2 linked regions of the Homo sapiens genome follow. The gene in region 1 interacts genetically with each later gene. Each region holds a gene or a part of one and is shown in the gene's direction. Other genes may lie near its edges.

Region 1 (3,653 bases):
CTAACAAACCACCCCTTACATTTGACATAATTAGGAAGAATGTTGAAAATAATCGCTACCGTCGGCTTGATTTATTTCAAGAGCATATGTTTGAAGTATTGGAACGAGCAAGAAGGATGAATCGGTATGTTTTCAAAGCCATTTTTATTTTGAGGATATGTGCTATTTAATACAAAACAGATGAAAGAATATTGCTTTGATGTACTATTTCCACTTACATACATGATTTGTAGTTGGTAGCATGCTATTCTGAATTCTAATCAGCCAGAACTTCTTAAGAGTGAGTATATTCTGTGGGGGAGAGAAGGCACACCACTAAGTCATCTAGTTTAAGGCCAGTGAGGAGGAAGACAAAATTGAAAATCTCTTGAAAAGCATAAACTTAAAATACAGCCTTTCATAGAATGTGTTTTTTAAAAAGATAAATGTTTCTAATTGGAAATAGTAACAGCGTTTTTCTTTTAAGGTTTGGCTTCAGTGCACGAATGCTTTAAATAAAATAGCTCTAAGGTGTTGTCCTGAGGTTAGACTGATAGAAATTTGATCACCATTTTAAGTACCTCAGAGGGTTTCTTTTTTTTTTTTAATCTCAGGTTTCTCACCTTAAGAGCTTGCTGAAGACATTAAATGTTCTAAAAGAAGCAATCAAATTTAGATTTACTTTAAACTTAAATTTCCTTCTAATTTTTATCTGTGATATATCGTTGCTACATGTCAATAGCAGACTTGACTATTAAATTCAGCAATTACAGTGTATTTTATATGTGCACTTAGAGACAGTTGGAAAAATATAAAAAAAAAAAAGATACAAACCTTACCTTCCTGGAGCTTACAGCCTATCATGTTTAGAACTAGACCTTCAGGCAGTGTAATGCCAGCTGGGGAATCTATGAAATCAGAATTTGCTCTGAACCTTTAAAGAAAAGCAAGTAGTAATGTTTGCTTTCAGTGTCTTTGCAAATAAAAGAAAAAAAACATAGTAACATTTGCTGCTTGTGTTAAGCACCAGCTCTTCGTAAAGCACCATGCTAAGCACTTTATGAAGGCAATCTCTAACCCTTATGATAGCCATTCTAGATAAGTGATAATCTTTTCAGTTTGCATGTGAAAGAATTAGAGGCATAGGCAGAGAAAAGTTACCCATAGTCTTACAACTAGTAAATGATGTGACTTGTCTTGCTCTCCACTGCAGAGGGCTACTCCTGAGCCAGTTACCAGGACAAGTCATGGAGCACGGCCATAGATGATAAGCCTTGAGCTCTGTGCTCTAAAAGCTTGAAGTCTGATGGATGGGCCAGGACTTACGCTTAAGGGAAAAATAATTCCACACATGAGACAACATGCCACAACCTTATATTTAGTAAAGATGGTGATGTAAGGAACTCTGTGGGCCACAGTTCTCCTTAAAAGGCATGGGATGATAGGTAGGGTTCAAATGAATAGGCCAGAGGATATTTCAAATAAGATGAATGTTATGAGCAAAGAAATGGAGTTAGGAAATGAATATGATATGTTTAAGAGACAGGGATAGAGTTGGGGCCAGTTTGGTGAGGCCCATGTGTGACACTTTTAAGAAATGGTCCTTAATAATATGGTTCTTCAGCAATTGAGTAGAAATAAAGAGAAGGATGGAGGGACATCTTGCAGTCAAAAACTCTTGGAGTTACTCATTTATTCAACACATATTTATTGAGAGGCTACTTAATGAGCATATTCTAGATGCATGTAATACACCAGTGGGCAAAACAAACTCTGCTTTCATGTAGCTTAGACTTCTTTCTGTTCTTGTTCTTGGCTTAAGTAGTCCTTAAGTCTAATACCCCTCCCTTCCTCTCCTCCCTGCTTAGCCCCATTACATCTTGGTGTTAGTTCTGTGAGTCTTTCAATGAGTATTTGTCTTCTAGATTATTAGGAACTTCGTTTATGTCTTATAGATGAAATGTTTATTTTAAGAATTAAGATTTGTATCTCTAGGAAATTAGCTCTTTTCATTCTCCCATTGTTGACATGGTTGTTTTTTGCTTTTGAGGCCTGGAAGATAGAGTCCAAGGTGTATTTTTATGAGATAGTGATGCACACAGTTTTACCCTCATGCCCAGAGCTTTGTTGAAAAACAAAAGGGATCCCTGGTAATTTAGTAGTTAGGAAAAATTTTTTAAAGAAAAACATACGGGGAGCCATTCTTAACTTTGTGAACAAAGATAGTATTGTGATTGCTTATAGTACTTATTAAGAATAAGTACTTAATAAGAATTGATGGAGATGCATCAATTTAGTGAATGATAAACTATGCCTTTATCTACTATATTATCAGTAACAAAGCTAGGCATCCCAGAAATATTAGTTCATAAATTCAATGAAGTCTACATACCGTAGATTTCCATGTTGATCTCTAAGAGTCTTCATGCTTCATCACCATTTACCCCTACCCCTACCCACCACTGCTACCCAACATCACCTAGGACTTCACAGGCTAAAATAGAAGGAATCTGAACAGTGAGACGTAACAAGAGAAAAATTCACTCAGGTGACAATAGTTTGTCCATCAACAGTATTTAGTAACAGCACAGTGCTGACTCATGCCAGTTGGCTGCTGGCTTTCCTAAACTGCTGGCAGTATTCCCAGACTAAACACTCTGATCCCCTTGCAGGTAAAAGAGACCTGTGGGAAGATGAACAAGGGAAGCATTAAGAGCCTCCTGTATTCTTAATTATTTCCTTTTGCTGAATGTCTGCCTTATATAAAAAGATTACCAATTGAGGGGAATTTAGAGTTCTTTTTCCAGCTTGCGTTTATGTTCCTGCACATTCAATGAATACCTGACCTCGTAGACTAATAAATTCTTTATAATGCTTTGAATAAACAAAAGCATATACTAGGTGTTTAGTGACTCTTGTACAGAATGTTCATTTCTAAACCATGCGATATGATGGAATTATGATCTGCCCTTTTAGTATACCATGAAAGGTATTTACAAAAATTTTACAAAAATTTTTTACTTTTAATTTACAGAAATTTTCACTTTTTATACTTAAAATTGTACACTATTATAAAATGAACTTTAATTTCAAGTGAACAGAATTCAAATATCTTCATTCAGAAAACAAACATAAAATTATGTTTTAGGGGCCAGGTACAGTGGCTCACACCTGTAATCCCAGCACTTTTGGAGCCCAAGGTGGGAGGATGGCTTGCACTCAGGAGCTTGAGACCAGTCTGGACAATATAGCAAGACCTTCCTTAGCTCTACTTAAAATAAAATTTAAAAAATCAGCCAAGCTTGGTGACATATGCCTATAGTCCCAGCTACTCGAGAGGTTGAGGTGGGAGGATTGCTTGAGCCAGGAGATTGAGACTGTAGTGAGCCATGATCGTGCCACTGTACTCCAGCCTGGGCAGCAGAGTGAGACTGTGTCTCAAGAAGAAAAAAAAAGTGTTTCAGGGGTGTCTTCCCTTGGTAAGTTTTATTTTTATTGCTTTCCTACAAGTATTAGCATTTCTATGACCCCAAAAGATATTTAAAACCTTTCCAAGGCCGGACACAGTGGCTCACACCTGTAATCCCAGCACTTTGGGAGGCCACGGCGGGCGGATCACCTGAGGTCAGGAGTTCGAGACCAGCCTGGCCAACATGGTGAAGCCTCGTTTCTAC
Region 2 (3,653 bases), about 72 Mb from region 1:
CCAGATAGTTAGTCAAACAAACACTTACTAAATCTACCAGGACTTTAAGATAATGTCTTTTTCATCTTACCATGAATTGAGAGAAGATGAGAAGAGCTTCCCAGACATGCAGTTTCTCAGAATCTCCCAAGTCCTACAGAGATGCACATTCCCATGACAGCAGCCCACATGCAGTGGCTTTCTCTTATTCTTGTCAGATATTTTAGAATATAATATTACTTTAAAAAAATTGCCATAGGGGGCTGGGCGCAGTTGCTCACACCTGTAATCCTAGCACTTTGGGAGGCCAAGGCGGGAGGATTGCTTGAGGCCAGGAGTTGGACGTCATAGTGAGATCTCGTCTCTACAAAAAAATGAAAAAGAAAATAACCAGGCATGGTGGTACGTGCCTATAGTCCCAGCTGCTTGGGAGGCTGAGGTGGGAGGATCGCTTGAGCTTGAAGTTCAAGGCTGCAGGGAGCCATGATCATGCCACTTTACCTCAGCCTGGGCAAGAGTAAGAGCCTGTCAAAAAAAATTAAAAATAAAAAGCCCCAAGAAAATCCCCATGATTTTTTTAAAAATGAAATCCCCAAGACAATCCCCATGTGAAGATTCTAGAAGTAAAGGATTTCCATTTTTTCATATTATTTCAGACTATTTGGAGACTTAACTCATATGGCCCTACAGTCAGGTTTTAACCCTATCCCTGAATTGACTATAACTGTCTGATTTCCCAAGTCTCAAAATCACAGGGGCCATGAGTCAGTTTTAATATTTGGCATTCTGGGAGTCTGGGTCTGGCTCAAGGACAAGACATGACTTGTTTGTTGGCAGTAGTACTTGGTGGCAAGAATGAATGTATCAATGTGTGTCTCAGGTCTCGAAGTACCGAGGCTGGAGTGCAGTGGTGGTACTGAGTCTGGTCTCCGGGAAGTATCAAATAAGAAGGGAAGTATGGGAGTCACGTCTCGGGGAAAGTACCTACCGAATCAGAAAGCCAGGCAGACCTTCTAAAGAGACTTTTATGAATGTGAGATAATAGTATAGAAATTGGGGAGACCAGTTGATGTTACAGAAGAGGGAAAGTGGTAGAGGTGAGATTTCTTTAGCTCTTGAAAGCGTAGCTGTTCTTTACATGACAGCTGCCTTTGGATATGGAGTACCCCGTCTGTAGATAGTCAGTAAGCCTTGAATGTGGTTTCATACCATTATAATATGTTCTAGAGTACTCGCCTCAAATCCTTTTTGGAAGTAGGTGGGTCACCAAGCATTATTAGAAATAAGAAATTATGCAGCATCTTGATTTTAGATGCATATAGTATAGGATTTCTGCTTTACGTATGGTTTATTGCGGGAAGGGAAGGGAAAGGGTCATCTCAGAGTCTTAATGAAGCAGATGTGTTTTATTATGGTTTCTATCTAAGATGACCTGTTTCAGATATAGTAACTTTATATATATGGAATGAGAAAAGGCATCTATAATACAGCAAAGTTTCTAACTAGATAATAGAGCATAAGCCAGGCATGGTGACTTACAACTGTAACCCCAGCACTTTGGGAGGCCAAGGTAGGAGGATCCCTTGAGCCCAGGGGTTCAAGACCAGCCAGGGAACATAGGGAGACCTCATGTCTTTTTTTTTTTTTTTTAAGTTTTGAAAAAATAGAGCATATTTTTACTTTTATTCTGTGTGATTAACTGTTTTCTTATAATATGTCCTATTACATTCCATTTAGGTTAGAATGGCTGAGGAGCACTCTGAATTTGTTGTTGGTTTTATTTCTGGCTCCCGAGTAAGCATGAAACCAGAATTTCTTCACTTGACTCCAGGAGTTCAGTTGGAAGCAGGAGGTAAATCTGGTCACTGGTCGTGGCTCTTCCAAAAATGCTTCTTTACCCATGGCAGGCAAAATAAAACTTTGCATATTATTATACACTTGCTTAAGAAAAGCCTTCTTAGTCTAGAACAATAATGAATGAGCCCTTTGGTAACTATGTATCTTTGGACAAGTCAGTTTACTTCTTTTAGTCTAATTGTCTGTAAAATGGGGATGATAACAGTATTGACCTCATAAGGTAATCAAGATGCTTTAATGAGATAACATGTAGAATATTTAACACAATGTCTTGGCACAGAGTAAACACTCTGTACTTATAAGCCCTTATTCGTAAGCCCTAATAATTGTTTGACTAGATATTATAGTTAGGGTCTAGGCTTTTAAGAATACTTAAAGTATCTTGGATTTGGAAGATAATAAGCCATTTAACAGAATGCTTCTGAAACAGCGGAATTTAATAAAAAAGCAAAATTTAAGGATTCGGGTTTATGGATAGTCTGTGTGACCACTTGATGGGGTTCTTGTATATGGTAGTGGTCAGGTTAGACTTGCTCAGCAGTGCCTTGTGGTGATTCTAAGATGTGTGCTAAAATTTTCTTCAATTGTGAGGCCAATCTTTATTGTATTTTTTTGATATTGAACCTTTCTTTGCAACATATGAGTTTTACTTCTTTTTTTAATATATTGTTAAGCTACAGATGATCTAAAATTTGACATTGAGGGGGTGAATATTTAGGGCAACTTGAATTTATGCTTCTGGAAAAAAATTACATGAAAAAATAATGATAAAATAAATAAGGCTGGGTGCGGGGGCTCACGCTCGTAATCCCAGCACTTTGTGAGGCCGAGGTGGGCAGATCACCTGAGGTCAGGAGTTCAAGACCAGCTTGGCCGACATGGTGAAACCCTGTCTCTACTCAAAATACAAAAATTAGCCGGGCGTGGTGGTGCACGCTTTTAATCCCAGCTACTCGGGAGGCTGAGGCAGGAGAATCGCTTGAATCCGGGAGGCGGGGGTTGCAGCGAGCTGAGATTGTGCCATTGCACTCCAGCCTGGGTGACAGAGCAAGACTCTGTCTCAAAAAAATAAATAAATAAATAGGGCGGGGCGCAGTAGCTCATGCCTGTAATCCCAGCACTTTGGGAGGCTGAGGCGGGCGGATCATGAGGTCAGGAGATCGAGACCATCCTGGCTAACACGGTGAAACTCCATCTCTACTAAAAAATACAAAAAATTAGCCAGGCGTGGTGGCAGGCGCCTGTAGTCCCAGCTACTCGGGAGGCTGAGGCAGGAGAATGGCATGAACCTGGGAGGCAGAGCTTGCAGTGAGCCGAGATAGCACCACTGCACTCCAGCCTGGGTGACAGAGCGAGACTCCGTCTCAAAAAAATAAATAAATAAAAATAAATAAATAAATAAATAAATAAAATAAACTTTACCATTGAAAAGGAGTTGGTGATCATCTTTCTCCATTTGACGTCTCTGGCCTACCCAGTGAGTCTCTTCAGCTCCTGTTTTTACGCAGTTGCTGTACAAAAGGGGAACGAAAGTAGGGGCATGTTTTTATTTAAAGCTGGTTAGATACTTTTTCAGAGAAGTCATGTGACAGGTTTTCTGATTTTTGTATTATGTGAAACAACAATTTTTGTGTTTCTTGCAGGAGATAATCTTGGCCAACAGTACAATAGCCCACAAGAAGTTATTGGCAAACGAGGTTCCGATATCATCATTGTAGGTCGTGGCATAATCTCAGCAGCTGATCGTCTGGAAGCAGCAGAGATGTACAGAAAAGCTGCTTGGGAAGCGTATTTGAGTAGACTTGGTGTTTGAGTGC

The links. A genetic interaction does not mean that the proteins touch.
Region 2: changes in PBRM1 (region 1) and UMPS together harm fitness more than expected from each alone (negative genetic interaction), as found in Homo sapiens cells (one large-scale study listed by BioGRID).

What each region holds. Positions count from the first base shown.
Region 1 is NC_000003.12:52,605,784-52,609,436, reverse strand, and holds part of PBRM1 (protein polybromo-1), read left to right. Parts: coding exon 1-124; intron 125-3,653. UniProt on the Homo sapiens protein: Involved in transcriptional activation and repression of select genes by chromatin remodeling (alteration of DNA-nucleosome topology). Required for the stability of the SWI/SNF chromatin remodeling complex SWI/SNF-B (PBAF).
Region 2 is NC_000003.12:124,740,436-124,744,088, forward strand, and holds part of UMPS (uridine 5'-monophosphate synthase), read left to right. Parts: intron 1-1,716; coding exon 1,717-1,831; intron 1,832-3,479; coding exon 3,480-3,649; 3' UTR 3,650-3,653. UniProt on the Homo sapiens protein: Bifunctional enzyme catalyzing the last two steps of de novo pyrimidine biosynthesis, orotate phosphoribosyltransferase (OPRT), which converts orotate to orotidine-5'-monophosphate (OMP), and orotidine-5'-monophosphate decarboxylase (ODC), the terminal enzymatic reaction that decarboxylates OMP to uridine monophosphate (UMP).